Linked DNA regions of Homo sapiens: all the other regions are linked to region 1. The links come from fine-mapping of genetic effects on gene expression. A gene starts in region 1. Each other region holds a variant in brackets. All regions are shown on one strand. Distances are from middle to middle.

The links.
Region 2: its variant is fine-mapped to the expression of PCBP1-AS1 in whole blood (INTERVAL, PIP 0.97).
Region 3: its variant is fine-mapped to the expression of PCBP1-AS1 in whole blood (TOPMed, PIP above 0.99).
Region 4: its variant is fine-mapped to the expression of PCBP1-AS1 in fetal neocortex (Walker 2019, PIP 0.91).

The regions. Positions count from the first base shown.
Region 1 is chr2:70,083,928-70,092,030 of GRCh38, reverse strand. It overlaps PCBP1-AS1 (PCBP1 antisense RNA 1), which reads left to right and starts at 5,016. Exons shown (of 11, transcript NR_033872.1): 1 at 5,016-5,053; 2 at 6,407-6,484. It overlaps PCBP1 (poly(rC) binding protein 1), which reads right to left and starts at 4,554. Exons shown (of 1, transcript NM_006196.4): 1 at 2,828-4,554. The coding sequence starts at 4,287. The coding sequence ends at 3,217. It also overlaps a transcript of ASPRV1 not described here. RefSeq lists silencers at 2,212-2,301, 2,392-2,441, 4,468-4,527, 4,978-5,127 and enhancers at 3,250-3,416, 3,488-4,132, 5,338-5,547, 5,588-5,677, 5,818-5,957.
Region 2 is chr2:70,010,226-70,018,328 of GRCh38, reverse strand. All of the region lies in intron 7 of PCBP1-AS1 (PCBP1 antisense RNA 1), which reads left to right. It also overlaps a transcript of ASPRV1 not described here. Among named protein-coding and RNA genes, the nearest start is that of ASPRV1, 53 kb to the right of the region's middle. RefSeq lists an enhancer at 7,708-7,777. The variant C/T (reference allele first, on the strand shown) is at 4,247.
Region 3 is chr2:70,063,200-70,071,302 of GRCh38, reverse strand. The region is part of intron 4 of PCBP1-AS1 (PCBP1 antisense RNA 1); the gene reads left to right. It also overlaps a transcript of ASPRV1 not described here. Among named protein-coding and RNA genes, the nearest start is that of PCBP1-AS1, 20 kb to the left of the region's middle. RefSeq lists enhancers at 145-214, 152-446, 1,893-1,972. The variant C/G (reference allele first, on the strand shown) is at 4,045.
Region 4 is chr2:69,972,569-69,980,671 of GRCh38, reverse strand. All of the region lies in intron 9 of PCBP1-AS1 (PCBP1 antisense RNA 1), which reads left to right. It also overlaps a transcript of ASPRV1 not described here. Among named protein-coding and RNA genes, the nearest start is that of ASPRV1, 15 kb to the right of the region's middle. RefSeq lists enhancers at 3,915-4,425, 4,426-4,937, 7,642-8,103. The variant G/A (reference allele first, on the strand shown) is at 3,775.

The DNA.
Region 1 (8,103 bases):
CATACTCTTAACTATAATCAGCTACTAGACATCTTCCAAGCGCACCACAACAGCACGATGTAGTTCAGAGTACTTTGCCCACAGTAGCTGCTCAATCAAATCTGTTAAATAACCTCCTTACAGCATTATTGTCACTCCGTCAGCCCTGGACTGTTCCTCCTTGACTTCTCTCAAGGGCACTCTCCTGATTTCTCTCCTGCTGCTTCAACTATTCCTTCTGTCCTCACTGGCTGCCTCTTCCATATACACTTTACAAATATTTACTGAGTCCCTGCTATGTGTCAGGTATGGTGACAGGTACTAGGGTACCCAGTGAATAAGAAAACTAGGTCCTTCAACCCAACGAAATACCCCAAAACTCCATCTCTAGTCCCTTCCCCTCATTTACCTCTGTTCCTATGCAGCTTTGACTTCACCTCAGTCTTATTTCTAGCTACTTGTTGACTATTTCTGTCTGCATATACTTCTATCACCGTGCCTGAATTCATTGCTCCCCCTTTTTACATCTTCCTCTGGCCTCCACACCCAGTTTCAATATCTCTGCCATTGCCTAGTTCCTTTCCTTGCATTCCTATTGATACCACTTGCCAGCCTATATTAGAACCTGCTTCTTCCTTGAGGTAGTTTGCCAACTGCTATTCTTGCTTTTCATCTTTCCAAGTAGCAATTCGTCCTATGCCTTGCTGCCTAAATCATTATTTTACAAATTATTGCCAGCTTTGCCCAGTATAAGATGCAGTGGGGAGGAGGTTCAGGAAAGTCTGAGGCCTACTTTTCTTTCTTTTTTCTTTTTTGAGACAGGGTCTTGCTCTGTCGCTCAGGCTGAGTGCATTGGTATGATCACAGGCCACTGCAGCCTCGACCTCCCAGGTGCAGGGCAATCCTCCCACTTTAGCCTCCCAAGTAGCTGGAACTACAGGTGCACACCACCACACTTGTCTAATTTTTTTTTCTTTTTTTTTTTTTTTTGTAGAGACGAGGTTTCACCATGTTGCCCAGGTTGGTCTCAAACTCCTGAGCTCAAGTGATCTGCCCACCTCGGCCTCCCAGTGTTGGTATTACAGGCATGAGCCACTGCACCTGGCCTAATTTTTGGTATTAAGACCTGCTTTTCATAGGGCATTCAAACTGCTTCACCCAGCATTTCAGGGATTCTTCAAAGACTATTTGGCTTGGTGTTTGAGGGTTCAAGCTTATATCCCCTCTTGCCTTGATTTGGATTTGTGCTTATTGTTCCCAGAAGGCATGGTACCCACTTCTGGGTCTTCACTAGGTCCCCCTCCCTCCCCACCTGTCTTGGCCTCTCAGTCCAACTCATTTAATACACATTGCTTTGTTTCCTACCTTTTAATCATCTGTCTTCTCTGCCCAGATTTTGTGGCCAACCCTCAGCCCCCAGAAATGGGCCTTTTGGCTTTTTATAATCGAGTACACTGAAATTTACTGTGTTCTAAGCACTGTTCTGTTTTATATACATGCTTTCATTTTATTTTCACAAGCCCAGAAGGTGTTAATTTTAACATCTTCATTTATAGAGATTAATTTGTCCAAAGCCATGAATAGGAGGCAGAACTCAAATTTGAAAGCAAGTCTAACTCCAGAATTTGGGCTCCTTTCAGTGACTGCTTGCCTAACCCTGCGTGACCACATAATAAGCCTCAACGAATATTTACTGTGGATAATACTCCCCTCCCACAGGAACTTCTCTTTGCCATGAGTGATCTCCCATAGTGCCTGGGGTTTGAACTACCCACTTTGGCACCTACTGGTCTATTGTCTGATACTATTGTTTCTTCTTTCCCTCATCTCAGGCTCTATTTTCTCATACTATTGTTTCTAATGTTGCCTTTGCCTAGCAGTTTTCCTTCTCTCATCAGGTCAGGGATAGTCCTATTGGCTGACGTGGGCGTGAGGGTGCTACGGCCTTCACAGCGGGATCTTCCTCCTCCACTGAAGACAATCAGTGGCATTCAAATCTAAGACTCCTTTGGGGTGTTTGTTAAAAATACAGCTGATTAGTTTTGGGGTGGGACAGAGGAATCTGCATCTTTAACACTCAGATCATTCTTAGGTTATAGTCAGTGCATCAGTCTACATTCCCGCCTTGTGAAGACTGACCCATTTAGGCAGGATTATTTCCTGGTATAGGGATTCTCTAAACATTGCACACAGCTGAAGAATTGGAAACTGGGCCTCTTTTGTTTCTGGATACACCACTTGGCAGGTGTAATAACATCCTCTGACAGGCTGCTTGCCACAGGTGCATGCTTGACACGTGCGTCTCGTTGGTACCGTCCCCTCCCCCCTTCCCACCCCTGCTGCCCAACCAAGACCCCTCTAGTCCCACCACCACCCGGCAGCTGTTGCCCTCCTCCAAGCCCCCAATCCTCCCCGGCCCACTGCCCTCCCTTCCTTTCCTTTCCCTGCCCCCACACCCCTTCCCCAGGCTCCTCCCACCCCAGAATATTTTTTTGTTCCTAAGTTTATCCTGTGAGGTGGGGGTGGGGGAACTGGTTAGATGGAGAGGACGCTCTGCCATTTAGAGGTCCTACTGAGTGGGCACACCTTTTCCCCTCGAGAAAACCTTGTTTCTACCAGAGAAATGGGCAGAGGCCTCTCTCTGGAACTTGAACCTCTCTGTCCCTGGAAACATCCCAAAGCAGGCCCAGCCTGCCATGTTCCTTTGTTGGGGCACAGAGGGAATGGAATCTTACCGATAAGGTGAGAAGAGCTTGAGAGAATACCAAGGACGGGCCCACCCTTCTCCCTCCTCCCTCCAAACACCTCAGGCTAAAAGGGGAGGGAAAAAAAAGGCACCAACAAAGAGTTTAAGACAGCAATTCCCAGCTTTTTCAAATATGAAGCATTTTTTAACCAATCCGTTTTTTAATTCTTAAATTCTTGACATTACAGAACTAAACTGAAATTTATTAACATTCCACTCTTACATTTCTTATCGACAAACAGAAATAAAATTCATGAGCCAAAAAACCCAAAACAAAACTAAAAACAGGGAAAAGCTTATAAAACTAAATATGGATCCCAGCATTAACAGCTGAACAGAGAATGTGATTTTTAAATTCTTAGCGGATGATAAAGTTGTGTAGAAACTGAACACTTACAAATTATTTAAAACCTGGAATCACTGACCAGAAATTACACAGTTGGATCATGGGAGAACAGCAGAAAGGGGTTATTGAGGGAACCTACACTGTTCTAGCTGCACCCCATGCCCTTCTCAGAGGAAAGCCTGGCATTGATTAGATACTGGGCCAGACTAATACTGGCAGCAGAGCCAGTGATAGTAACCTGCCTACCAGAGGAGCCTTCCACTGGGTTGGCAATTTTGATCTGGGCCCCGGACATCTGGCGGATCTCATTAATGTTGGCGCCTTGGCGCCCGATTATGCAGCCAATTAAGTTATTTGGAATGGTGAGTTCATGGGTGGTTTGAGTAGATGCATCCAAACTTGCCCAATAGCCTTTCACCTCTGGAGAGCTGGAGTCAATTCCGGCGAATCCGGTCCCGCCGTGCATCATGGCAAAGTGAGACTGTTGTCTTGCCACCTGGTTCAGCTTGGCCAGATCGAGCGGAGAAATGGTGTGTTGTCCTTGAATCGAGTAGGCATCTAGAGGTGGTCCCTCCAGGTCATGGGTGGCATGGGGGTAGCCCGCAGCGTCGCTGCACCGATCTTGGCCGCCCGCGCAGATGACTGGGGAGCTGGCCGGCATGGGCTGGTACGGAATGGTCATGACTCTCCCTTGCGGAGACTGGGAGAGCGTCTCCAGCATGACCAGGCAAATCTGCTTGACACACTCGGTGACAGACTGCGGCACGCCAGCGATGGTGATGGCCCGCTCGGTGGAGTTGGGCAGCATATCCCCCGCCACCTGGACCTGCGCCCCCGTACTCTCGCGGATCTCTTTGATCTTACACCCGCCTTTCCCAATCAGGGAGCCGCACTGGGTGGCCGGCACCACCAGCCTCAGGGTGACCGGGGGCCTGCTGGCCGCGGTACTGTTGGTCATGGAGCTGTTGATATCTTCCTCCAGCTTGTCGATGATCATAGCGAAAGCCTTAAAGATGGCATTGGTGGGGCCGGTCAGAGTGATGATTCTCTCCGGACAATTCCCCTCCGAGATGTTGATCCGCGCGCCACTCTCCTCGCGGATCCTCTTAACCGACTCCCCTTTCTTCCCAATGATGCTTCCTACTTCCTTTCCGTGCATAAGAAGCCGAATGGTGAGAGTCACATTTAGTCCACTTTCAGTCACACCGGCATCCATGGCGAGCGGCGGGCGGCGTTCGGGGGAGTTGGGCTCGTTACGTGGTCAAGTCTTTGGCGGCTGGCGGGGGGAGGGGAGGTGTAGGCCCAAAACTGCCGGCGCGAGGCGAGCGAGGGCCGCGGGAGCGAGCGGGAGCGGGCGGGAGGCCGCAGCGTAGTCGCAGGGGCGGGCGGCGGCGGCGGAGGGGGCGAGCGGGGCCGGGAGCGGCGGGCGGGCGGGTGGGCGAGGGCGCGGCGGTGGCGACTCCGGCGGCAGCCTCGGCGGTCTGGGCGGGGCGGGAAGCCCGCTTTCAACCCCGCGTACCCTCTGACCCCGGAAGTGCTTGCTGCGCAGGACCCCTTGAAAAAAAATGAGGACCCGTCTTTTTTAGGTCACAAGATTGCGCCAACCCTTACATGGTCCTTAAAAAAAAAACCTTCTGACACTGCAGTAGTGAAAATGAAGCGCACGATGGGCGGAAGCTGTGAGTCCGGCAAAGTTTTAAAATGATGACGTATTTTATTAACTCTAACGGCACTGGCGGGTGACTGAAAATACTAGTGCTGTGTATGCGGGATAGACATTATTTTCCTGCCCTACATGAGGGGCTCGTGCGCGGAACGACATGGGCAGCCCCGGCGGAAACTGCAGGCACAAGCCGGGACGCCGCGGGTTTAAAACATGCGCGTGAGGTGACCAGAGCGCGTGCGCGAGGGTGTGGGGGGATGGGAGGGGCAGCAGCCCTCTTCCGGGGGGGAGGGGCGGCGAGGCGAGGCCTGCGGAGCGGGTGCGCGCGGGCGGGCACGTGGGGCCCTTTCGTCCCCGGCGTCCGGGCGCCCTGCATGGATCCCCCACCCCAGCTCCTGCTCCCCGGCGGCGGCCGGTGGGCAGAAAGACCGAAACCCACTCACGGCCGCCTGCCGAATCGCGGCTCTGCTGTTTGTGGGGCGTGCTAGAAACGTGGTCCTAAAAAGAATGGCGTCCATTTACATAATGCTTTGTTTGCGTTTCGCAAGTTTCTTTCGGTTAAAGCCACAGAAACCCCACCTCCTGCCCTTGTGTCGTTTCCACCGCGGCACCCTTTTCCGACATTAGAAACAATAGTGTACGCCTGTGGAGGCCTCGTTTGTTCAGGGGCTGCCGGCCAGGGCTTCAGGACGTTTCTGCGGCTTTCCCCGCGCGGCCTGGGCTCCCGCGGCTGCTTTTCGGGCCCATGGGCGCAGCCACTGCGCCAGGCTCAAGGGGGGCGGCCCCGTCAGGGCCCGCCATCTTGGAAGGCCTTTTTTGCCGGTTCTTCCCGCTGAGGAAGTGTCGCTCAAGACGCTGGCCTATGAGTTGTGATTTCTGCCTTTTCCCCTTCCTCCTTGGGCTAAGCCAGACCAGAAAGGGCCCCGTGCGCAACGTGCTTCACAATCTCTCAGGGAAAGCGGCTAACGTGGCGCTACTCCGCCTCCCCTGTTCCTTACCCTTGGGGCGGCCGCCATGTTTCCTGAACACAAAATGGCGACACGTGGTTAGCATTCGTCGCCAACGAGAAATTGGGGTCGGCCCGAAAGCTCTAGAATGCACCCCTCTTCCTCCCCGGGGCCTTCCACCTCCGCGAGTTTTATGACTTAAAAAAGCCCACAGGCTGGTCTGAAGGTCGGAGGCCTAATTTTAACGCGTTTTCCTCCCTTTAATTTGAAACGGGAACGCGAATGACTGTAAAATGTGGGCACAATATTTAATCTCTCGCCTTTTTAAAGCTTAATAGTGGATAATAGGGGGGCAGTATCAAGGGATAATTTGGGTCCCCACAGTACCAAAGCATTTAGAAACCTCTGTTTAATTTAAGGAATGAGATAAGTTACTGCTTTTCTAGACTTCCTAGCATGGGCTGTTGTGCTGGAGAGAACGAGAGCTACGAAGAGACTACAGTGCCTCTGACTTTTTCATAGGACAGTTGGCCGGTGAATCTTATTAATAGTTTACCACAATTAAGTGTTCATTTTTAGTCTAGAAGGGACAGGCGTTTATTGTGCATTGGCCAGTGCCAGCACATCCGATGCAAGGCAGTTCACCGTATTCTATCTTTAATTTTTACCATGGTCCTCTGAGGTAGGTGTTCTTATCTCTCTCTCTCTCTCTCTCTTTTAAACAGAGGAAGACAAACATAAAGATGAAGTGCTTAATTCAAGGTCACACAATGTCGGGGATGGACCTCCAGATTTCCTTACTGGTGAGCACATTTTCCAGGTTTTTCTGTAAATCAGGGTTTTGGAATTTAAATACTATTTAAAACGTTTAGGTGAGCTTGTCATTTAAATGAGCCCTTCAGGTAATCTTTTGTTGTGCAGTCAGCCCCTTTTTGTATCAGGCAGCTCCCAGCTTTTCCTGATAAGAGCTACACCTGTAACGGGCGGGCGGGCTGAAATGCTGTCTTATGCAGTGTCTGGTGAGGATAGGGAGGGGGAAGTGATTCAGCCTGCCCAGAGGCTCAGGTGTCTGTCGGTCTGGCCCTGTCTGTGGCACATTTGAGCCTACCTGCCTCTGGGGGAGCAAATGGTTTTTTGTATGACTGACTTGCTTCCGTCAGCTCCCCATGGGCTTGACTCTTGCCTCCCCCACCCCAGCACCCCAACCAGGTAAAAATAAATTCGCTCTGGCACCAAGCCTCCATTTCTCTGCAGAGATTGACAGAGCATGACAGAGTGTTAGGTCAGTCTGTGGACTCTTCAGTTCAATGCAACACGTAGCTAGTGGGCCAAGCAACAAACTGGTGCCTGAGCAGGGCTCTGATTGTGTGTGGATATGAGAGACAAAGAGAAGGGCTTTTTGCCTTTAACTTATGTTACTATCAGATATATTTTCCAAAGTGGTTTCATGTTAGTTTATATAACTCTACGAACATTTAATAGGTACATAACAGCAACGATGACAGTTACAGCACTAGGTGCTTACTGTGTGCTGGGCATTGTTCTAAGCCTTATTTTATGTATTCAGTGTCTCACATTTTTAAAAAAACCACTAAGAAACAAATTTTACATTATGATTTAAGACATTTATGCACACATATGTAACAAAATTTTTGCAAAACAATATTTGTTACTACATGCAGTATATGTACTTGGGTAATTTCTATTCTTTATATATAAAAAGGACACATTATAAAGTGATTAAAAACCCATTAATAAGTTGTGACCGCTTATACACATTTAATCCTCACAAAACCTCCTGAAATGGGTGGTGATATTAGGTCAGTTTTACAGAGGTACAGATTAGTGAAGGAATTTATCCAAGGTCACACAGCTATTAAGTGGTAAAGCAAGGATTTGAATTTAGGCAATCTGAGTCCAGAGACTCCATTCTTAACCACTAAACTGGATGTGGTCTCTGCAGAGAGTCCTGTCTCATAGGGAGACAGAATAGATGAGGGAATTAAAAATATTACCAAGTGTTAGAAACTCAGGTGACAACAAAAGGACTAAATTGCATATAATCAAGGAATGTTCAAACAAAGCCTTCTTCTGGTCTTTTAAATCTAACTTATTTCTTTTCTCTAGAGAAAATTTTATCTGTCAGGTCTTTCTTTCCAAGACTACCTACTGAAATATTTCCATAATTTCCTGTTATGTACTCCTGGGACTTAGTGCACCTCCTCAGTGAAGCCTTCCCTTTCCCAGCTTCCCCAGCTCTTAGCCTCCCTCCTTCCCCGAGAGTCTTAACAGTTTCTCCCTTCGGTAGCCCACGTTTGGACGTTGGTTAAATTGTAATGTGTCTTGGGGTTGGTAACATGTCATACAGACACCTTGGGTGATGCTGTGGTCTGGCAAAGAGGTCATTGGACCTTGGAATCTG
Region 2 (8,103 bases), 74 kb after region 1:
TTAATTCTTCCAAACCGTGGACACAGCATATCTTTCCATGTTTTGTGTGTGTCCTCTTCAGTTTCTTTCGTCAGTGTTTCAACAGTGTTTTCCATGTACAGATCTTTCATTTCCTTGATTAAATTTATTCCTAAGTATTTTTTATTCATTTATTTTATTTTATTTTATTTTATTTTATTTATTTATTTATTTTTGAGGTGGAGTCTCACTCTGTAGCCCAAGCTGGAGTGGCGTGATCTCGACTCACTGCAACCTCCGCCTCCTGGGATCAAGTGATTCTCGTGCCTCAGCCTCCTGAGTAGCCGGGACTACAGGTACGCACTATGACACCTGGCTAATTTTTTGTATTTTAGTAGAGATGGGGTTTCACCATGTTGCCCAGTGTGGTCTCAAATTCCTGAGCTCAGGCGATCCTCCCACCTTGGCCTCCCAAAGTGCTGGGATTGCAGGTGCGAGCCACTGCGCCCAGCCTATTCCGAAGTATTTTTAAATAGCTATTGTAAATGAGATTGTTTTCTTCATTTTTTTGATAGTTCGTTGTTATTGTATATAAACACTACTGAATTTTGCATGTTGATTTTGTTTCTTTTTTTTAAAAAAATACTAACAGACAAGCAAATGCATGTTGATTTTGTATCCTGCAACTTTACTGAATATGTTTATCAGTTCTAACAGTTTTTTGGTGAGTCTTTACTATTGTCTATCTAAAGATCATGTCATCAACAGACAGACAATTTAACTTTTTCCTTTGCGATTTGGACAAATTTTATTTCTTTCTCTTGACTAATTGTTCTGGCTAGGATTTCCAATACTGTTTTCAATAGAAGTGTCTGAAATAAGCATTCTTGTCTTATTACTAATCTTACGAAAAAAACTTTCAATTTTCACTATTCAATATGATGTTAGCTGTGGGCTTATCGTACATGACCCTTACTGTGTTGAGGTCCATTCCTTCTGTGCCTAATTTATTGAGAGTTTTTAATCATGAAAGGATGTTTAATTTTGTTGAATACCTTTCTCCATCAATTGAGATGATCAGGTTGGGCGTGGTGGCTCACGCCTGTAATCCCAGCACTTTGGGAGGCTGAGGTGGGCAGATCACAAGATCAGGAGATGGAGACCATCCTGGCTAACATGGTGAAACCCTGTCTCTACTAAAAATACAAAAAAATTAGCCAGGCATGGTGGTGGGCACCTGTAGTCCCAGCTACTTGGGAGGCTGAGGCAGGAGAATGGCATGAACCCGGGAGGCGGAGCTTGCAGTGATCTGAGATCACGCCACTGCACTGCAGCCTGGGTGACAGAGCCAGACTCCGTGTAAAAAAAAAATTGAGATGATCATAGGGCTTTTGTCCTTCCTCCTGTTAATGTGGTGTATCATATTTATTGATTTGTATATGTTGAACCATCCTTGCATCCCAGGAATAAATCCCAATTGATCATAATGGATTATCTTTTTTTTTTTTCTCCCTTGGTGGGGACAGAGTTTCACTCTGTTGCCTTGTTGTCCAGGCTGGAGGACAATGGTGTGATCTCAGCTCACTGCAACCTCTGCCTCGTAGGTTCAAGCAATTCTCATGCCTCAGCCTCCTGAGTAGCTGGGATTACAGGCATTTGCCACCATGCCTGGCTAGTTTTTGTATTTTCAGTAGAGATGGGTCTTCACCATGTTGGCCAAGCTGCTCTCAAACTCCTGACCTCAAGTCTGCCTGCCTTCGCCTCCCAAAGTGCTGGGATTACAGACATGAGCCTGGCCTGGATGATCTTTTTAATGTGTTGTTGAATTTGGTTTGCTGGTCTTGCTTTGTCACCCAGGCTGGAGTGCAGTGGCATAATCTTGGTTTACTGCAGGCCTTAAACTCCTGGGCTCAAGTAATCCTCCTGTCTCAGTCTTTTAAAGTGCTGGTATTACAGGTGTGAGCCACATTGCACCTGGCCTTATTGAGGATTTTTGTATCTATGCTGATGTAGTCCCATTGGTCTATAATTTTCTTTTCTTGTAGTGTCCTTGTCTGGCTATTGTTCACGAGCATGTTGTTCAATTTCTTTGTATTTGTGAAATTTTCCAAAATTCTTTTTATTATTTCTAGTTTCATACCATTGTGGTCAGAAAAGATACTTGGTATGATTTCAGTCTTCTAAAGTTTATTAAGACTCGTTTTGTGGCCTAACATGTGAGTTGTCCTCAAGAATGTTCCATGTGCACTTGGGAAGAATGTATTTTCTGCTGCTGTTGGATGGAATGTTCTTTATGTCTGTTAGTTTCCTTTGGTCTAAAGTGTAGTTCAAGTTTGATGTTTCCTTTTTGATTTTCTGGCTTTATTGAAAGTGGACTATTGAAGTCTCCTACTATTATTATTATTATGGAAATGGAGTCCTGCTTTGTCACCCAGGCTGGAGTGCAGTGGCAAAATCTCGGCTCACTGAAACCTCCTCCTCCCGGGTTCGAGTGATTCTCCTCCCTCAGCCTCCTGAGTAGCTGAGATTACAGGTGGGAGCCACCATGTCCAGCTAATTTTTGTATTTTTAGTAGAGATGTGATTTCGCCATGTTGGCCAGGCTGGTCTTGAACCCTTGAGTTCCAGTGATCTGCCCACGTCAGCCTCCCAAAGTGCTGGGGTTACAGGTGTGAGCCACCACACCTGGCCTAAAGTCCCCTACTATTATTGTATTATAATCTCTCTCTCTCTAGATGTATTGATATTTGCCTTATGTATCTAGAAGCTTTGATGTTGGATGTATTTACAGTTGTCCCTTGGTGTGGGATTGCTTCCAGTACCTCTGTGTGTAACAAAAGCTGCACCATTCAAGTCCCACAGTTGCCCTGCGAAACCTCTGTATATGAAAAGTTGGCCCTCCATGTACATGGGTTTCCCATCCTGTGAGTACTGTATTTTTGATCCTCATTTGGTTGGAAAAAATCTGCATATAAGTGGACCTGTGCAGTTCAAACCCGTGTTGTTCAAGGGTCAGCTGTATATTTACAGTTGTTATATTGTCTTGATAAATTGATCCTCTGTCATTATGTAATGATGTTCTTTGTCTTGTTTTACAGTTTTTACTTAGTCTGTTTTAAGTATAGCTACCCCTGCTCTCTTTGGTTTCCATTTGCCTGAAATGTCTTTTTCTAGCCTTTCACTTTCATTCTATGTGTGTTCTTAAATGTGAAGTTAATCTTCATAGGCCACATATAGTTGGGTCTGTTTTTAAATTTTTGATAGTATCCAACCTAATGGGTGTGAGGTGATAATTCTTTGTGGTTTTGATTTGCATTTCTCTAATGATTAGTGATGTTGAGCATCTTTACATATGATTGTTGGCCATTTGTGTCCCTTCTTTGGAGACTATTCAAAGTCCTTTACCCATTTTAAAAATGAAGGCATTTGCCCTTTGTTGTTGAGTTGTAGGAATTTTAAAAATATATTCTGGATAGTAAATCCTTTTCAGATATAAGATTTGCAAATGTTTTTTCCCATTCTGTGGGTTGTCTTTTCACTCTTTTTCTTTTTCTTTTTTTTTTTTTTTTTTTTTTGAGACAAGGTCTTGCTCTATTATCACTGGAGTACAATGGCGTGAATGTGGCTCACTGCAGTCTCGACCTTCCTGGCTCAAGGGATGCTCCCACCTCAGCCTCCCAAATAGCTGGGACTATAGACACATGTCACCACATCTGGCTAATTTTTTATTTTTTGTAGAGATGAGATTTCACCATATTACCCAGGCTGTTCTTGAACTCCTAGGCTCAAGTGATTTGTCTGCCTCAGCCTCCCAAAGTGTTAGGATTACAGGTGTGAGCCACTGCACCCGGCTGCCTTTTCACTCCTAATTGTATCCTCTGTTGCACAGAAATTTTTAAGTTTGATGTAGTCCCATATGTCTCCTTTTTTTTCCCCATGCTTTTTATGATTTCTAGCATCTTTTTGTGGGCTTATTGTGCTTGTATATCTTCTTTGGAGAAATGTCTGTTCAATTCCTTTGCCCTTTTTTGAATGGGGTTGTTTGGTTTTTCTGTTGTGGAATATTTAAATTTCTCTATGTATCCTCAATGTTAAGCCATACTAGAGATATGCTTTTCAAATATTTTCCCCCATTCTGTGCATCACCTTTTTTACTCTGCTGAAAGTGCTGTTTGATGCAAAAAAGTGTTTAATTTTCATGAGGTCCAATATATCTATTTTTTCTTTTGTTGCCTGTGCCTTGGGTGTTATATTCAAGAAATCATTGACAAATCCAATGATATGCTCTT[C/T]TACACTCTTAAAAATTATAGACAACCCCAAATAACTTTTATTTAGTGGTTTTAACAATATTTACCATGTCTGAAATATGATAAACATTAAAATTAGTATTTTGGAAAAATGCCATATTAGAAACTGATGATTTAAAAGTAACAACAATGAATCCATTACATGTGAACATACTGTTTTTTTGTTTGTTTGTTTGTTTGTTTTGAGACGGAGTTTCACTCTTTTGCCCAGGCTGGAGTGCAGTGGTGCGATTGCAGCTCACTGTAGTCTTCGCCTCCCAGGCTCAAGTGATTCTCATGCCTCAGCCTCCTGAGTAGCTGGGATTACAGGTGCTCACCACCACACCCGGCTAATTTTTGTAGAGATGGGGTTTCACCGTATTGGCCAGGCTGGTCTTGAACTCCAGACTTCAAGTGATCCACCCACCTTGGCCTCCCAAAGTGCTGGGATTACGGGCATGAGCCACTGCACCAGGCCAACATACTTTTTATAAAAACAGCTGTCTTCTCTAAAACAACAAAAAAATGTAGATAATAGTAGTATCATTTTATAGTTTTGCAACTCTCTTTAATGTTTGGCTTAATAGAAGATAGTTGGATTCTCGTATCTGTTTTTGTATTCAGTCTGTTGTGTATGTTGTTTTGATTGAAGTAGATGAAGGAAATCCAGCTACATACAGATTTGGAGTTGGAAAAAATAGTATTTTAATAACCTTTTTAGATCATGGTGGATACTCTTCTTTGTTATGTCATCAAAATTAGACAAATGGCAGTTTCTGAAAAATTAGTTGTAATGTGTGTAAAAAATTAGTTGAATCCATATCAGTGAACTCATACTTTTCTATATTAAACTTCATTGCTCTATCTTGCACTTTGAATGGGTCTTTTATTCATGCCTGATTTTGTAACATCATGCATTCGTCATTTTGAAAATGATGGTTCAGTGAATTATTCACATCTTCTAAATGTAGGCACATTTCAGTCTATAATATCAAAAACATATTTGTCAGTGTTACCACTGATTTCATCAGAAAAGTCTTGAGGTGTTAAGAAGTCTTTAGGTATCTACCAGCATGGATACACATTTTCCAAAATTTTAAATCTTCACTTGACAGCTCAAATTTTACAGTTGGCAACAAATACTGTCAGTTGTTTTCTATGAGGTGACAGGTTCACTTAATTCATTTTTGAGAAAATGTTTGCCAAATACCCAAGTCTGAATAATCATAGTTTGTTAGTCATTTTTTTCCTAATAAAAATGATGTTCTATGAAAAAGCAAGTAGTCAGCTTGTAATTCAAACAATCAGGTAAGTGCTTCCAGTACTTAGGTATTCAGCAGAAGTGCTTTGTGTACAGAGTATTAATAAGACATGTATTCAAGGGATAAGTTTTAATAAAATTAATAATTATTACTCTATCATGGACATTTTTACATTAAGTTTGCCTTTCTGTTGAACTGCAAGTACATGGGGGTGAAGACTGTGACTCCTGGTGCAGTTTGGTGCCTCTTCATTGACTTAAGGCTCTAGAAGGCACCAAATACTGTTGCTTTTGCATCATCAGTGCAAATGTCCGCAAAGTGAATGCTGCAGAAAAACTCTTGGTATTATTATAAAAATGATGTTGACCTTGGCCGGGCGCGGTGGCTCACGCCTGTAATCCCAGCACTTTGGGAGGCCGAGGTGGGCGGATCATGAGGTTGGGAGATTGAGACCATTCTGGCGAACACGGTAAAACCCTGTCTCTACTAAAAATACAAAAAATTAGCCGGGCGTGGTGGCGGGTGCCTGTAGTCCCAGCTACTCGGGAGGCTGAGGCAGGAGCATGGCATGAACCCGGGAGGCGGAGCTTGCAGTGAGCCGAGATTGCACTACTGCACTCCACCCTGGGCCACAGAGCGAGACTCATCTCAAAAAAAAAAAAAAATGATGTTGATCTCTTGGATCCCCCGGGAAGGGTCTTGGGGACCCAGGAGTCCAGGGATCATAATTTGAGAGCCATGGCCTATACGACCATGGGTACTAATAGCACATGCCTCCAGCACCCTCCATCAGCCTCCCTCGGCCTCATTTTCCTCAGTTGTAAAGGGAGGCCTGGGCAGGCTCTGTTTCTTCACACTGTTGGACCCTGTTTGCTAGCCCCCGAAGCTGCTTCTCCCTTAGCGGTGATGCTGCTTTCAGCTCCTGCTTTTCCTCCCTCTCTCATGCCTCCCTTTCTCTCCGTGGCTCCTCTTCCCCTCACTCTTTACAGGTTGGCATTCTTCTTGTTTCGTCTCCTCCTCCTTTCCCTGGATGATCTTATTTCCTCCCTGGTCTTTAACCATCACCTGCAGGCTGACAGCTCCCAAATCTCTATCTTCAATCCAGATGTCTGTCCCGGGCTCCAGTTTTGTGGTTCCACCTGAGACCTTTCCACCTATATGCTTTACAGGCAAGTCAAAGTCAGCATGTCTAAACTGGTTTCTTCGTCTTCCCCTACACATTGCTTCCTCTTCCAGAATAGACAGTCTTGGTTAATCCATCATCTGCTCAAATGCTTAAGCCAGAATCCCAGGAGTCCTCCTCCCCTTATCTGGCTCCCTCCCTTCCCTCATCTGCTCACCTGGCCTATCAGTTCTGCCTCCTAAACATTTTCCCAATCTCTCCCTGCTCTCCAGCCCCACCACCACTGCCTCAGCTCAGGCGCTCATCCCTTCTCACCTAAACGATTGCAAGGGTCTTCTCCCTGGCCCCCTGCCCCCTGTTTTCAACCTGTACTCTACAGTTCTGGTTGGAAACCACAAGAGTTATCTTCTCACACTTTTTTTTTTTAACTTTTAATTTAGGTTCAGGGGTACATGTGCAAGTTTGTTATATAGTTAAACTCGTGTCACAGGGGTTTGTTGTACAGATTATTTCATCACTCAGGTACTAAGCCTAGTACCCAAGAGTTATTTTTTTTGCTCCTTTCCCTTTTCCCACACCCCCCACCCTCCACCCTCAAGGAGGTCCCAGTGTGTATTGCTCCCCTCTGTGTTCATGAGTTCTCATCATTTAGCTCCCACTTGTAAGTGAGAACATGTGGTAGTTGGTTTTCTGTTCCTGCATTAGTTTGCTAAGGATAATGTGTTTTTCATTAAGTAAATACATATCGAGTACTTACCATACCAGGCTCTGTGCAGGCTGTGGGAATACAACATAGGACATAACAGATACTGTCCTGACCTCCAGCACTCACAGCATATGAAGGAGGAGAGAAAAGGACAGGGCACAGGTCATTAGGACCCAGTGCAGTGGGGAAAGATGGCAGAGGTGCTTGGGAACCCCTAGAAGTTTTGACTGAGGGCTGAGTCTGAGGGTGTTCAGGGAGCACTTCCTGGAGGAAGCAGCTCTCATGTTCAGACTGCAGCCTGGGTGGGAGTTAACTAAAAGAGATGGGAGTGTTGTGGTGAAAAACGTTACTGGAAAGTTTGATCATTTAATTTCCCTGTTAAATACTTCTCTTGTGAGCTTCACCACTGCCTGCAGGATCAAGTCCAAATTCCTTATCATGAAACACAACCTTTGTGGCCTCGTTGTCTGCCACTCCCCTGTATTCATTGTCATCAGCTTGAACTGCTTTCAGTTCCCCCCAACGCTGCTTGCTCACTCTCTCAGCTCCAGGCCTTTGCACATGCAGTTCCTTGTGCCCTCCACCCTTGCCACGCAAATCCCTACTGCCTATCTATCCAACTGTGAATCACCCCACGTCAGCTGTTCAGGAGACCTTCCTGGCCCCTCCCCTGTAGACTTTGTGGCTCCCTCTCTTGTGCTTCCCACCTGTACACACACCTGGACTCTTGTGCCCTTATCACGTCCTTAGAGCTTTTCCACTTGTGTAT
Region 3 (8,103 bases), 21 kb after region 1:
AGAAACAATTTCTACTTCTCCCTACTTTGTAAATGCAGTCTGACAAATCTGTGCTTCACTTAGGATTATTTAGTTACAAGGTGAGTATGCTTTCCTTTCCTCCTTGAAGAATGAATTGATGGTGAGCTAAGTCTTTACAATTGTCTGTGAGTTTGGAGGGTTTGCAGTCTCCTACTCTTGTAATCATTAGGAGGTCAGGCTGCTGCCCTGCTGCATACGCCATCAGAGCTCACAAAATGGCTGGAAGTTTATCCGGGCACTTGACAAACTGCATTTACTTCATCAGGCCACTAGGTGATGAACAACTCACAAACCCAGACTGCCAGGGACTGTGGTGTACAGGGCAGTTTCTGTTTATACTTGGAAAGGCCATTCGAAGTCATCTGGTCCAAACTCATTAAAAGGTTTTTGTTGGGGAGGGGAAACATGTTTTTTATATAGTTTGTCTTTCCTGGCTTTGTTACAGTTAAATGTTAATTGCCTGGGACATTTCCTTTTTTTTTTTTTTTTTTTTTTTTTGATACGGAGTCTCACTCTGTCACCCAGGCTGGAGTGCAATGGCACAATCTCGGCTCACTGCAGCCTCCGCCTCCCGGGTTCAAGCGATTCTCCTGCCTCAGCCTCCTACAGGCGTGCGCCACTGTGCCCAGCTAATTTTTGTATTTTATTTTTTTAGTAGAGACAGGATTTTGCACTGTTAGGCTGGTCTCGACCTACTGACCTCATGATCGCCCGCCTTGACCTCCCAAAGTGGTGGGATTACAGGCGTGAGCCACCACTTCCAGCCAAGTAGGACATTTCTTTGAGTGATTTTCTTAGAAGGGGGGCATGAGTGGTACTTTCAAAGTCTTTTTATGTCCAATTTCTTTTTAACCTTCGTGTATGAATGATATTGTGGTTAGGTTTAGAATTCTTGGAATACTAGTCCTAGTCTCGACAAAGTCTAAGTAGCTTTCCAGTGTTTTGAGTTTCTGGTGATACAGATGAGAAGTCCAATGGGATTTTTTTTCCTTGTAAGTAATAATCTGTTCTCTTGTTCTGGAAGTTTGTGAATTTTTATTTATGCTTAGAGTTTCCTGTGGTATGCTTCTGGTATGTCTTTTTTTTTTTTTTTTTTTTTTTTGAGATGGAGTCTTGCTCATGTTACCCAGTCTGGAGTGCAATGGCACGATCCCAGCTCACTGCAACTTCTGCCTCCTGGGTTCAAGCGATTCTTCTGCTTCAGCCTCCCGAGTAGCTGGGATTACAGATGCGTGCCACCACGCCTGGCTCATTTTTGTATTTTTAGTAGAGATGAGGTTTCGCCGTGTTGGCCAGGCTGAGGTGTATGCCTTTTAAAAATAACACTTGTTGGCACTTGATGAGCCTTTTAGACTTAAAAACTTAAAGTCTTTTTTCTGTTCAAGGTTGTTTTATTGCTTCCCTTTCTTTTTTTTTCCAACCTCCTTACTTTATAGAACTCAGAAAGGTGAAGTGACTTGTCCAAGCTCATATAGCTAGTTACAGATGAACCTCAAGCAAATAACCTGACTCCTTTGATGAACTAGACTTTTGTGTATTGAATATTGCTCCATTGAGAGGGCCATTATGAACAACTTAGAAACTTTTTAGTGAGACAGGAATTTTGCCAAGCCTTTGTGGGGAGATGAAGAAGGAAGAAGAGATAAAATTCATTATTTGTGGCCCATTTGAAGGGCTAAAGAATTCGCAAGTTCCCTGGTATCTCAGTTATTGAGCTACCCCGAAGCTCTAAAATGTAATAAAACCAGGAAGTTGCTTGAGCACTTGGAGAATTAGATTTTTAGTAGTCAGGAGTTGGATAAATGTGGTCATGCCCTATTGTAAATATCAAAAACATATAAATGGCATCCGAAGGCTTGGAGACAGACATCATAAACCATGTCTTATCAGTGGTCTGGTTTCTGTTTTGAGTTCCAACCTGGGATGCTTCTGTGGGAACCACCTGTTCCTGGCTCTGTTGATCTTTGGATTTCCCCAGCCCTTCAGTCCCTTTCAGTTTTGAAATGAAACCTACCCCAGAGGGCGAGGTCAGGTTACGAAGAGGACTTTGACAGCTCACCTTGGGTTGTTTTTTTCCCCCAGAGCTGTCTAGTGTGTGACTGTGTGAGGTGTGAGGCTCAGCAGGCTGTGATACAGATTAATTGATGGTGAATCAGCTGTTGGGTAAGGCCTGGGCTGTGTCATTTTTTGGGTAACCAGGAAAACATGACCAAATACATTGTCTTTCATCTATAGAAAGTTGAAACTTAAGGGTACAATCACCAGAAAGCTGCCCATGATCTCTGCCTTTGGTTTACTGACGAAGGAAAGGCTTTTTTTTTTTTTTTTTTTTTTTGAGACAAGAGTTTTGCTCTTGTTGCCCAGGCTGGAGTGCAATGGCACAATCTCTGCTCACTGCAACCTCCGCCTCCTGGGTTCAAGTGATTCTCCTGCCTCAACCTCCTGAGTAGCTGGGATTATAGGCATGTGCCACCACGACTGGCTAATTTTGTTATTTTTTTTTTTTTTTTAGTAGAGACGCGTTTTCTCCATGTTGGTCAGGCTGGTCTCGAACTCCCGACCTGAGTCAGGTGATCCGCCCGCCTTGGCCTCCCAAAGTGTTGGGATTACAGGCATGAGCCACTGTGCCTGGCTGAAGGAAAGGCTTTAACTTGCCTTCATCTTTCCTCATTTGTAGATCTTCCTTACCTCCTTTCTATTCACATCTCTAGCTTCCTGCTGCTGCTCTAGCTACTAAACCTTTACATAATGTGCCTTTTGGAATTGGTGCTTTGGAAGTGACTCCTCTAGATACCCCTAGAAACCCCCGTTCTCCAGCCAGACTCACAGAATGCAGCTTGCCGCCTCCTTTTTCTGTAAACCTGGTTTCCATAAGATTGCAGCACTTCATTTGGAATCTTTACAAGTGAAACTAGCTCTTTCTTCAACCCACTCCTTACCACTTCACCCCTGACTTTGCCTGACTGTACTTCAGCCCCATTCCTCAGCACTCCAGAGCTGCCTCCAAATGGCCAGATACTTTCAGATACCTTTTGCTCTTTGAAATTTCTGCTGGCCAGGAGGCCAGCAAGGCCACTTGATCACTGTCCTTGAAGCTGGCATCTATACCCATTTCCCCTGTGTGTGTTGCGATTTTGGTGTCTGATCTCTCCTCCTGGGGCTATAGCCCAGGCTCAGAGATTGGTGACCAGGGCTTGCCTGGAGCCAAGGATTTGGGATAGAGTGTGGACTTAGGGGGCTTGGTGTTAACATTTCAGAGGTAGACAGATGAGAAGCCAGAATACGTGAACCTCAAGGCCAGTGGAGGATGGGAAGGACAGAGAGAATTTAGTATCTGAAGCAAAAGATGACCTTTGTAAGCTTCTCCTCCTGCCCAATCTTTTTGAAAAATTATTTAATTTACAGAGAATATAATAAATGATATTTTTAAAATACCAAAACATTGTAGATCATATTTTGGCTATTCCTGTCTCCCCATTTCAGTTATTTCTGTATTCACTAGAGGTAATGTATTGGTGATTTGGAATGTACCTGCCATACTTCTTCCTGTGTGTTTATTTACACATGTATGAACCCAGAAAAAATTTAAAGTATTATTTTTTGTTTTATTTAATTCTCTATACAAGTGATATAACATCTTATGTATCATTCTGGTATTTTCTTCTATGATTTAATAACATGCTTTGACAGTATTCCATGTTAGTACAAACAGGCATATCTCATTCTTTTTGGTGCTGGATAGTATTTCATAGAATGGATATGCTGTATTTTATTTGGCTATTTTTCTATGAAGACATTAAGGTATTTCCAGTTTTTGGGTGATCTCAACCTCTTTGGCAGCTTCAGTTACCATCTACACGTGGATGATTCCCAAATCTCCAGCCCAGATCTCTAGACCAGATTATCCAATTGCTTACAACCCCACTGGGATGTCTTGCAGCCCCCTGCTTTTTCTCACTTGCTCCTTCTCCAGTGCCCAATCATATACATTATAGACAGTATGCAGCGGCTAAAGCCCCAAAC[C/G]CAGTAATGATTAATCATTCCTTCCTTCCCTTCCCACGTCTGACAACCAGTCACTAGGACTTGTCCTCCCTACCTCCTCAGTATTTCTTGAATCTAATCATTTTCCCTCTCCATTGCTACTGCCCTGTACGTTAGTTTTTAAATTTATAAAAGAGTACTTCTGAGGATTAAGTGAATTAATATATATAAGATGCTTAGAATAATAGATTGGTACCTACTAATTGCTATGTGAATCTTAGTTGTTATTATCATCATCTTAGTTTATATAATCCATTATCATCACTGCTTCCAGTCTTAATTTTATTCACCCCTACCTCCATTCCAGTCTCCACACTACAGCCAGAGTGATCTTCATAAAATGGAAGAATGGGCCAGGCGTGGTGGCTCATGCCTGTAATCCCAGCAATTTGGGAGGCCGAGGTGGGAGGATCGCTTGAGCCCAGGAGTTCAAGGCAACATAGTGAGACCATGTCTCTACAAAAAATAACAAATTAGCCAAGTGTGGTGCTGGTGAACATCTGTGGTCCCAGATACTTGGGAGGCTGAAGTGGGAGGATCATTTGAGCTTGGGAGGTTGAAGCTGCAACGAACTGTAATGATGCCACTGCACTCCAGCCTTGGTGACAGAGGGAGACCTTGTCTCAAAAAAAAAATAAAGTAAAATGTAAGAATGATTGCTTAAATGATAATTCTCCTGCTTAAAAAGATGTCAGTGAGGCCAGGCGCAGTGGCTCATGCCTATAATCCCAGCACTTTAGGAGGGAGGCCAAGGCAGGTGGATCATCTGAGGTCAGGAGTTCGAGACCAGCCTGGCCAACATGGTGAAACCCCATCTCTACTAAAAATACAAAAATTAGCTGGGCGTGGTGGCAGGCACCTGTAATCCCAGCTACTCGGGAGGCTGAGGTAGGAGAATCACTTGAACCTGGGAGGTGGAGGTTGCAGTGAGCTGAGATTGCGCCATTGTACTCCAGCCTGGGCAACAAGAGCGAAACTCCATCTCAAAAAAAAAAAATGATGTTAGTGATGTTTCCATTGAACTGCTTTGTGTTTTGGAGACAGAGTCTCTGTCTCCTGGGCTTGAGTGCAATAGCATGATTTCGGCTCATGCAACCTCTGCCTCCCAGTTTCAAGCGATTGTCCTGCCTCAGCCTCCCAAAGTGCTGGGATTATGGGTGTGCACCACCATGCCCAGCTAATTTTTGTTATTTTTAGTAGAGATGGGGTTTCACCATGTTGGTTAGGCTGGTCTCGACCTCCTGGCCTCAAGTGATCTTCCCACCTCAGCCTCCTGAAATTCTGAGAGTACAGGCGTGAGCCACTGCACCCAGCCTCCATTGAGCTTTTAATGACTTCATTTTATTGAGATACCTGATTTTTCTTTTCTTTCCTTCCTTCCTTTTCTTTTTCTTTCTTTTTTTTTTTTTTTTTTTTTTTTTGAGTCAAAAGCCTCGTTCTGTCACCCAGGCTGTAGTGCAGTGGTGTGATCATAACTGACTGTACCGCTCTGGGCTCAAGGGATCTTCCTGCCTCAGCCTCCCCAGTAGCTGGGACTAAAGGCATGCGCCACCACACCTGGCTAATTTTTAAAAAAATTTTTTGTAGAAACGAGGTCTCACAGCTGGTCTCTGTGCCACTGCACCCTGCCCCTGCTTTTAAATGCTATCTCTTCAGACAGGTCTTCCCTTGACTATCTAATGATTCTAAAGTATCTACCCATATGCTTTTATTAACATCACCTGATTTTAATTCTGTGATCGCACTTATCAATATATTATAATTTTCTGGTTTATTTACATATTTGTTTATAGTCTTCTCCAATTAAAAGAGAACAGGAATATTGTCTTTTTTTTTTTTTTTTTTTTTTTGAGATGGTGTCTTGCACTGTTACCCAGGCTGGAGTGTAGTAGCGCCATCTCGGCTCATTGCAAGCTCCGCCTCCTGGGTTCATGCCATTCTTCTGCCTCAGCCTCCTGAGTAGCTGGGACTACAGGCGCTAATTTTTTGTACTTTTAGTAGAGACGGGATTTCACCGTGTTAGCCAGGATGATCTCGATCTCCTGACCTCATGATCCACCCGCCTCAACCTCCCAAAGTGCTGGGATTACAGGCATGAGCCACCCACCGCACCTGGCCTTTTTTTTGTTTTGTTTTGTTTTGTTTTGAGATGGAGTCTGGCTCTGTTGCCCAGGCTGGAGTGCAGTGGTTCGATCTCGGCTTACTGCAATGTCTGTCTCCTGGGTTCAAGCGATTCTTGTGCCTCAGCCTCCTCAGTAGCTGGGATTAGAGACGTGTGCCACCATGCCTGGCTTAAGTTTTGTATTTTTAGTAGGAACAAGGTTTCACCATGTTAGCCAGGCTGGTCTTGAGCTCCTGACCTCAAACGTTCCGCCTGCCTTGGCCTCCCAAAGTGCTGGGATTACAGGTGTGAGCCACTGTGCCTGGCTGATATTGTTTGTTTTATTCATTGTTGTATTCCTAGCACCTAGGACAATGTCTGACACATTATTGACAATACTTGTGAAGTGAATAGTAAAACAACTTTCTTTGTCCTATTAGGCCCTTTTGGCCTCTCCAGCATCATCTGCATCAGTCACCTATCTTGACCTTCCCATCCTCCAGCTCATGACATCTCTTTAGATGTGCTTTCTTGCTGCAAGGCCTTTGCGTGTGCTCTTCATTGTGCCTAGAACACCCTTCCTCCCATGCTCTGCCACTGCCTGGATATCTCCTATTCATCATCTAAGTTATAGCTTAGTATACATATAACTTCACCTGATTAGCCTTGATCCTACAACTCTGCATGCATTGCCATTAATTATCATATGTATTGTAATTATTTTGTTGTCTGTGTCCTTCACTAGACTGTAAGCTTATGTTGTGCTCACCATGAATTCCTAGTCAAAGCTTATCAGCAGTGGCTAGAAGGACCTTTGAGGTGGGGCACTAGGGAGGGGGATAGAGTATTGGGGGCAGCACCTGAGGTCTAGGAAGCTGTGCTTTAGGATGTCAGGGTGAGTTTTAAACACTGGCCCTTGGTTCATTGTCATTCTTCCTATTTCGTCCATCTTTGGTAATTCCCTTGTTTGCCTGGATGAACCATCTAAAATGATTAAGTCATATCCATGAAACCAGGGTAAGCCTGACACAAAACACTTGCTCATGAAGGGAGCATGTGTCCTGAGGATAAAGGTTGAGAATCTGGGTAGGCATATTATTAACTTCAGGTAGCTGAGGGCAGAATAACTGACAGCGGAGTAGAATTCTAAGCAAGGAAGGAAGCAAAAGGCCTGAAGGATAAGATGAGACAAGGCTGAAGCAGGATCATTAAATCATAAACCTGGAGCACCTGGATAGTGAGTAGAGTGTAAGAAGGAACAGGGCAAGCAATTCAGGATTAGAGTCATAAATAATCTTGGGGATTACTTAAATCATCTTTTAGCATTCTTACCTCTTTAGTTTGGAACCAGCTTTTGGATTATAGAAAGGATCAGATAGTTGACATACAAGGATTTGAGTGAGAGTGTATATTACTTTCTCTGTATTTTATGGGCTCTTTACTTTAAAATGAAATCCCCAGAAATCCTACCTTAACTTTTCCCCCACCTAAATTTCTGCTGCCAAGAGCCTATCCATTCTTTTAAATATGTCAGGTTCAACTCCCTTATCTTTGAAACAAGTTGCATGTACAGAAGCCTGCAGTAGTCCTGGAGCTTCCTTCAGACAGGGTGAAGGGAGTGAGCTCTCTTCAGGCTACCTCCTCCCACTGAACCAGGCATAGGAGCTGGCCTCAGCAGCCTTAGGAGTTCAGGACTCTGTTCAACATGAATCTGTGGAATTTCTCTCTGAATTTTGGGGAGAGAGTATTCTGTAGAATATAGTACGGGACTCTGTCAGTGAGGCATAGCAAAAAGTACTGGAAGACTGGCTGGATGTGTGTGAATGGTGGGATCCGAAGGTATGTAGGAGTGGGCATCAAGGTTTCTGACCTGGCTCTTAAATTTTGACAGCGTTAGGGGGCACTCATGTGCCAAGTAGAGAGTCTTGAGGGGTAGCGCT
Region 4 (8,103 bases), 110 kb after region 1:
CAGGGTACATTTGCCAAAACTAATAAACTAACATTGGTATGATACTGTTAAGTAAACTCCAGATATTTTGGGATTTCATCATTTTTTCCATGAATGTCCTTTACTGTTCTGGGATACATTCCAGGATAGCATGTTGTATTTAGGGTGTGAATATTTGTGAGACTTCTTAGATAAATATACACATACATACACATTTGTATGTATGTGTGTGCATGTACACTTGAAAATCATATAAATTTATATTCCCACAAATAGCATTGCAGGGAATGAGAAAAAGACTTTGCCAACTTAAAAGAGAAATAGCAATAATAACAATGTGGCTTTAGTGGGCATTAATTCATTGCTAATGAGTTTACGGATTTTTTCATCTGTTTGGTGGCCAGTTGCTTTTCTTTGTTTTTGATTTCTCAATCACCTGCAGGAATTTTTGTCAGTGTTTAGATCTTTAGCTTCCACTCAAGGTGACACACAGCCAGAGTCAGGTGAGCATCTAGAAGCTGTGACTGGTGCTGCATCCTACTAAGTCACTGAAGGGGCCATGGGGGAGGGCAGGCTGCCCACGTGCTCCCTGTACAGACTTGGTTTCTCCCTCGGAGGCCTGCCCAGGTGGTGGAACCCAGCGACAATGAGGCTCCCTGCTCTCTGGGGCAGGCCAGCGGCAGGGGGAAATCTCATTCTATTTTCTGAGCCCTAGTTTTTTCACCCATTAAATGGGCACAATTTAGGCCTGTTCAGGTACTAGAAGATGATCGTGAAGTCACTGTGTAAAGCATCCTCCAAGTGGGTGATGGTGTTGTAGAGAGCAATGTGGTGAAGGGGACTGAGCAGTGCCTCGTATGGAGAGCGTGGAGCTTAGTCCACCAACCCAGGTGGCAGGAAACGCTCCTGAAATCAACTCAGCTCCAACTCTGAGCTCCCATGGTGCCTGAGGAGGAGGAAACTTCATCTTGGTCATTTTTAGGCCCCATCCAGTGAGGGTCACCCAAGAATCCAGGAGGTTGCCCAGAAATGTGGACAGGCAAGGGGCCTGTCACTCTCAAGGGCCTCATGAGGCTGAGACTCTGCCCCCAGGCCATTTTGGGGGCCTTTGTGCCCAGTTTGAGGGGGGTCCCATGTCCAGGGCTGGCCTCCCCACCTCTGTGTCCTGCCCCTCCCAGAGGGACATAGTACAGGCCTCTGCCCTCTTCCCACTCCCCAGTTCCTCCTCCCCTCTCTGTTCTCATTTTCTCCGAAGACTCTTCCCTCAGAGACTACAAGGAGCCCAGACACTGAAACAAAGAGGCAAAGGAGAGAAGGGCCTGGGGTGGCTTCTGCCTGGTCCTGAAACTCAAACGTCCCTGGCCGGGCGTGGTGGCTCACACCTATAATCCCAGCACTTTGGGAGGCCGAGGCGGGTGGATCATGAGGTCAGGAGATTGAGACCATCCTGGCCAACATGGTGAAACCCCATCTCTACTAAAAATACAAAAATTAGCTGGGTGTGGTGGCATGCACCTGTAGTCCCAGCTACTCAGGAGGCTGAGGCAGAAGAATCGCTTGAATCCAGGAGGTGGAGCTTGCGGTGAGCCGAGATCACACCACTGCACTCCAGCCTAGTGACAGAATGAGACTTTGTCTCAAAAAAACAAAAACAAACAAAAAACACGTCCCCTGCAACAGGGACACCCAAAAGAGGACAGGTCCAAGACCTTCTTGGAATGGGAGGAGGAGGAAAAATGCAACCATTGAAACACACATGAGTATCTAAGGAAATAATCTGGCCACACAGAGAAGAAATATGAAGATATGGCCTCTTGTCCAAATGGCACAGACCTGCCGTGTGGCCTCTGACAAGTCACCCATCGTCTGGGAGTTTCCTCAGTTGTGCAATGAAGGGGAGGGTTCCATGACCTCTGAGGCAGCCCGGCTCTCCTGTCCACGGGCTGCTACCACCTTGGAGGGCGCGAGGTTTGCTTCCGGTGTTCGGGGCCTTTCCCAGTCACTGCCTCACCAGGACACCCTCACCCGTGTCAGGCTGGGAAAGGGCTTTCTTAACCTTGTCATGCCTTGCTGTGGCTTGTCGTTGGTGTAATCTGTGAGGGCTTTTGTAGCTCTGCGTAATCATCAGGGTGAACGGGAGGTAGCTCTGGGTTTGGCCTAAGGCTGTTATGCGTTATCTCCTTTAATCCGCATAACTGCTTGATGGGCTGGGCCTGTCGTTTTCATTTTGTGAAGGGGAAAATGGGGCCCAAAGTTGTTTTCCTAAGGTGGCCTAGTGGGTGAGGCAGTGCTGGTCCCATTCTCAGACTGAGCTCCCTGGCCCTCCGGGTTGTGTCCCCTCTATGGGGCAACTATCCAGGGATGAGTGTGTGACCACGCTCAGAACCAGCCTGGGAAAACTTTCCCCAAGGAGACTCCCCTGGAGGCTTGGAGGGGTGGAAAGAGTGTTGGGAGAGTACAGAGCCCCCTGGGGAAGAAGCTTCTCTGGGGGTTGGAGCAAGCATTTCTCAGAATGCTGGGATCACTGCCTGGCCTTAAGCCCCAAGACTGCCAGCACACCCGCCCTGCAGAGGGTTGTAGCCAGAAACAGGCACCTGGCCAGTTGCATTTGTGCAAAGGAAGCCCATAGGGCCCCAGCCTGCTTCCTTTATGGGCTAGGGCAGGGTAGGGGATGTCTGAGTTTGAATTTAGTGTCTAGGGGATCCATACCCACACTTGTCATTCACCACCCAAGGGCATGGACCCACTTCTGGGGCTCATGACCTAGAGGACAGGCCAGACAGCCTGGAATGACACAACTCAGGGTGACACCAACAGGTCCCACTGGCTACTTTGTCACCTCCTTTTCTTCACTCCCCCCTCTGGAGTTACTAATTTCCACTTTGTGACCCTCCAAAGATGCATTCCACCCAACTTTCCCATTGAACTAGTGGGGAAATGGTACTTTCTGTATCCAAATCTTAGCTGAAACCAGAATTGGGGTTATATTGACTAAAAGATCATTTGGGGCCACTTCTTTTCATTTGTATTTATTAGGCCCCTCCTAGGTGGTAATGGGCCAGGTAGAGTGAGAGTACAGTAGAAACCCAAGACGAAATTATCCAGGAAGGTCAACCTTCATTTTACAGATGGAGACACGATAGTTCAGAGATGCAGAGGACCTCGCCCAAGGTCACGCAGATACCGGGCCAGTCTTGGGTTTGGAACATGAGGTTCCTGCCTTTCAGCCCCGTGATCTTTCGACAGCATCTTACACAACTTACAGAATGGTGGGGGAAGCAGGAATCGCACCTGCAAAACAATGACGGAACCCTGAGGGGGCAGGGCTCCCATTGCCAGTGACTTCCCACCCACAGTGGCTGTCAGTGCCTTTATGTTGTTTACTTAAATGTGCTTGTCTGGAGGTTGTCATTTTCTTTTGAGACACTGGGAATTCCCATAATTTTTTAAAAAAGTTCAGTAAAATTGAATTTCTACATTTTTGCCCAATTTTTTTCCTTTTTATTTTTTATTTTTTTTTACAGAGTCTCACTCTGTAGCCCAGGCTGGAGTGCAGTGGTGCAACCTCCTCCTCCCATGTTCAAGTGATTCTCCTGCCTCAGCCTCCCGAGTAGCTGGGACTACAGGTGCGCGCCACCATGCCTGGCCAAGTTTTGTATTTTTAGTAGAGACGGGGTTTCACCATGTTGGCCAGGCTGGTCTCGAACTCCTGACCTCAGGCGATCCACCTGCCGCGGCTTCCCAAAGTGCTGGAATTACAGGCATGAGTCACCTTGCCTGTCCCATTTTTGCCCA[G/A]TTTGTGTCTCCTCGGTGTATGAGTGTGTGTGTTTTGTCAGGGGCACTCTGTTCCTATAGGTTGGTCTGATTTGGGACTCTCTCTGTGTGTGCTTTGATGGGGGCACAGTGACAGGAGATGGTGGAAATAAGGCGTGGAGAGGCTGTATTGTGCCATCATACCTTACCAGGACACTCTGTGCCTGGAGGGGGAAAGGGAGGGGGCCAGCCATGCCAGGCTGAGAAAGGGCTTTCTTAACCCACAAGTGTACAGGCCTTGAAGGCTCATGACTTAGGGTCATTGTCACCCATTCATTCAGTCAAATCTGGAAAGCATTCAAAAAATAATTAAAAAATCACCTCTGGGGAAAAGTCTGGTGTCAGGTTCAGAAAGGATTTGTTTCATATCCAGAGCCATGTCTGGGTTGTGTTCTCTGCTATCCAAGAACCCGAGGGCTCTCATTCAGCCTCAAGGGCTATGGAAGTGACTCCTGGTAGGTGGCTCCAGCACTGACTCTGGGCCCTCAGGGTCGAGGTTGCGGTGAAGACTGCGGTCTGCATCGCCTCCTGCCCCAGATCGGATTGGAGGGAGCCAGGTGAGCGTGAGGAGGAGGCAGTGTGGGGCTGGGCCTGGCTTCCAAGGAGAACTACAAGAAGACCAAAATCAGATTGGGATCTCATGGGAGGGCAGCACTGGGTCTGGAACGGAAGGCTTTGCCCACCTGGCCTCTACACGGACCACGTGGCCGGAGGGTTGGGCCTTCCAGGGCCATGCACCTGGGAGGGACAAGGCTGGGTGCGGTTGGGTCACATGTCTAACTTGTGTTCCTTTGAAGCTGTGAGTTGGACAGATTTTATCTTGCCTGTTTTGACCCTCTGTGAGCTAACAGCTGGGGGTGGGGTGGGGAAGGGGAGGACGGAGAGCAGTAAGCGTGCTGGTTCTTCTTTTGGTCTGTTTAGCAACTTCCCATGACTTTTGAGCAAGGAACAGGTGTAACCCCTTGCACCCTGAGGTGTGCAGTTGACTACATATGCCTGTGGCCTCAAGGCCATGTAGAAATTGTCCCTGGTTCAGCCAAAGCAAATTCAAAACCAAAAGCAAATTCACTGACCACGGGGGAAAGAGTAGGAGATATTAAACAAGCAGCTCTGCCTGGCCTTCCACTCACATGGCCATGAGGCCCATCATTCAGCACATCATCTCGGCCCCTACTGCGTGCTGGGCACTGTGAGGAGCTTCTGCCTCCTGTCTCCTTCACGCTCCTTTCCTTTCCCCTCCATAGCTCAGCAAGGCCCACATTTTCCCGGTGAAGCCACAGAACCACAGGGAGAAACCCATGGACTTCGCCTCTCTCTCTAGGCAAGTGAATTTGGTGGCAAAGTCTCTTGGCAAATTCAAATTGTACTTGCTACAGTCTTTTCCTCAAGTAATTCTGGGTGCTTTCCAAACTTACCAGTTCCCTGAAGTACATGGGAGGAGGCAGGGAAGCTTCTCGGGGGAGGAGCAGCACCGGCAGGGAGGCCGAGGGGCAGCAGTGCGGACAGGGAGTCAGGTGACGTGAAAGGAAAGGTGGGTTGCAGGCTGGGCTCTTGCTGTCTGTGGGCTCCATTCAGAATCCCCCACTTCACCTAGGACACTCTGGCCTCCGTCCAGGCATCACTGCCATGGAAATCCCAGATACATTCAAGTCCTCTGTTAAACACCTGCCTCCACATCCCCTCCAGATCTTCTCTGTCCTCAAAAGGAGCTCTGCCCTTCAAGGGAGGGGCTGGGGGCTTTGCAGCTTTCTGTGCCTCTGGCCAAGGCTGATCCTCCTTCCTCCTGCCTGAGAATCCAACCTTAGCCTGGAGCAATCCCAGAGGAATATGGGTGTGGGAGTTTGTCGCGTGTGACCCACAGTCGGCTCTGGGACCCCTGCCCCAGGAGCTCTGGAGGACTGTCAGACACAGCTTGTTGCAGGGAAGCTAGTTGACAGAAGATGTAACAGGAGTGTGAACATGCCATCAGCCCATACCCCGACCTCCAGGAACAGCCTAGCCTTACGGTTCTGTGCCCTCCTCAGCCCAGGGACTCTTCACCCACCCAACATTGTCATTACCCAAAACTATTTCACCTCTGCTCTAAACAATTCCAAAATCCCCATCCTCTGATCCCAGCCTTCTTCCTGTCCAGAGTTCTCATCCACAACTCCTGCCACCCCAGGGTGAATGGCGAAGCCCTCCACCAACATGGCAGCCCACAGAGGAGCAGACTGGAGAGAAAGAAAATGAGTTCAGTTTCGCTGATAGATCTGAAAAATATACATTGGGCAGGGCCATCAGGTTTTGGAGAGCCTTTTGAGGGCCCTGCTCAAGGAAGAGCTGGGCTTGGGGTTCAGATCCAGGTGTGCTCAGATCATACCAGTTCCTATGAGCTGATTGTTAAATCTTCAGGAATTTCATGAACCAATGGTTAAACCCAGCTATTATGAAAAATTAAATTATAAATTAAATTATATAAACTTACAATTAAATGAATTATATTAAGGCAAAAATAATAAATTTTCAAAAACCATCACTTCCTAATAATTTTTTTTTTTTTGAGATGGAGTTTCACTCTTGTTGCTCAGGCTGGAGTGCAATGGCACGATCTCAGCTCATTGCAACCTCCGCCTCCCAGGTCCAAGGGATTCTCCTGCCTCAGCCTCCTGAGTAGCTGGGAAAACAGGCATGCACCACCATGCCTGGCTAATTTTGTATTGTTATTAGAGACAGAGTTTCTCCTTGTTGGTCAGGCTGGTCTCGAACTCCTGACGTCAGGTGATCTGCCCGCCTCGGTCTCCCAAAGTGTTGGGATTACAGGCATGAGCCACCATGCCTGGCAATAATTTTATATTTTATTATTCTTTATTCTTTTAAGATTATGTACATCTATTACATCTGTGGAAATACTATATAATGTTGTGTTACTGTGCTTTTTCCCCAAGTCTGCATTCAGTGACATCATATTGGTGGATTGAAATCAGCCACAGTGGGAATATTTACACCACAGAAGTGGGCAGCAACCACCACAAATCAGGGCTTTATTCATTATTTGGTTGACTATCTAGACTTAAGAAGGTTATGGAGAAAATGCTAATAATGCACATTAAACTTAAATGTATGTTTTGCCAATGGCCATTGCATTGTGAATGGCACAGAAAAATGAAGGAAATATTCTTCCAGTATTCAAAAACTATTCTCTGCTTCAGTAAAGAAATTGCTAACACCATTGACAAACAAGTAAAGTTCTGGCCAGGTGCAGTGGCTCTTGCCTGTGATCCCAGCACTTTGGGAGGTCCAGGCGGGAGGATTGCTCGAGGCCAGGAGTCCAAGACCAGCCTGGGCAATATAACTAAACCAGTTCTCTACAAAAAATAAAAAAGTTAGCTGGGCGTGGTGTGCACTATCTGAGGCAGGAGGATCTCTTGAGCCCAGGCGTTTGTGGTTACAGTGAGCTATGAACATTCCACTGCACTCCAAGTTCTGGGCAACCCATTCTGTAAAAAAAAAACAACAAGTGAAGTTCCAACATCTGTCTTTCTGGCTTCACTTTTTTCTTGCTAGTTGGTACAAACAAAAATATCAGTTAACATTCATGTTGGAACTACATTCATTTATCAGTTACAACTGTAGGCTGGTTATAGATTCAGCAGGTTGGCAAAAATCAATGAAAGCATCCTGTAAGACCCAACTGGCCATATGCAATTTACAGTAAAGAGTAGTATATATTTTTTATTATTTGTAAATTATTAGCCATCCTTTATGTCAATAAAATTTATCATAAATGTATGTATGTGTATATATGCATGCATTTTCCCCAGAGAGCTCATTGTTAATTAAACATCTACCAGCATACTACTGGGCAGGTTGCCTTAGTCTGAGGAGTGGCCAGAGATTTGACTCTGGAAAGATTCCCAGAAGAGGGTGGGAATGGCTGATGGAAAGAGGCTACTGAGGAGGTTGGAGGGGGCCTCAGGTGGAAGGATTAGCCTGGCCAGGCACAGAGTCCCTGAAAAGGGATGAGAAGTGAAGAAAACCTGGGATAGGGTGGAGTGAGAGCTCGCCATTTCTCTGCCAAGCAGGACGCAAGCCATCTTCTGCAAGCAGGAGGTGGAGAAGTGAGGAAGGGTGAAGGTTTGGCCTGAGTAGAGTAGTCAGTGTGGGGCCAAGAAAAGGGACCAGGGAGGACGAGGAAGAGTAAGGAGGACTGCAGAACACTCATGAAAACCGAGAGGACGGCAGGCCCGGCGAATGGCTCACGCCTGTAATCCCAGCACTTTAGGAGGCTGAGGCAGGCAGATCACCTGAGGTCAGGAGTTCCAGATCAGT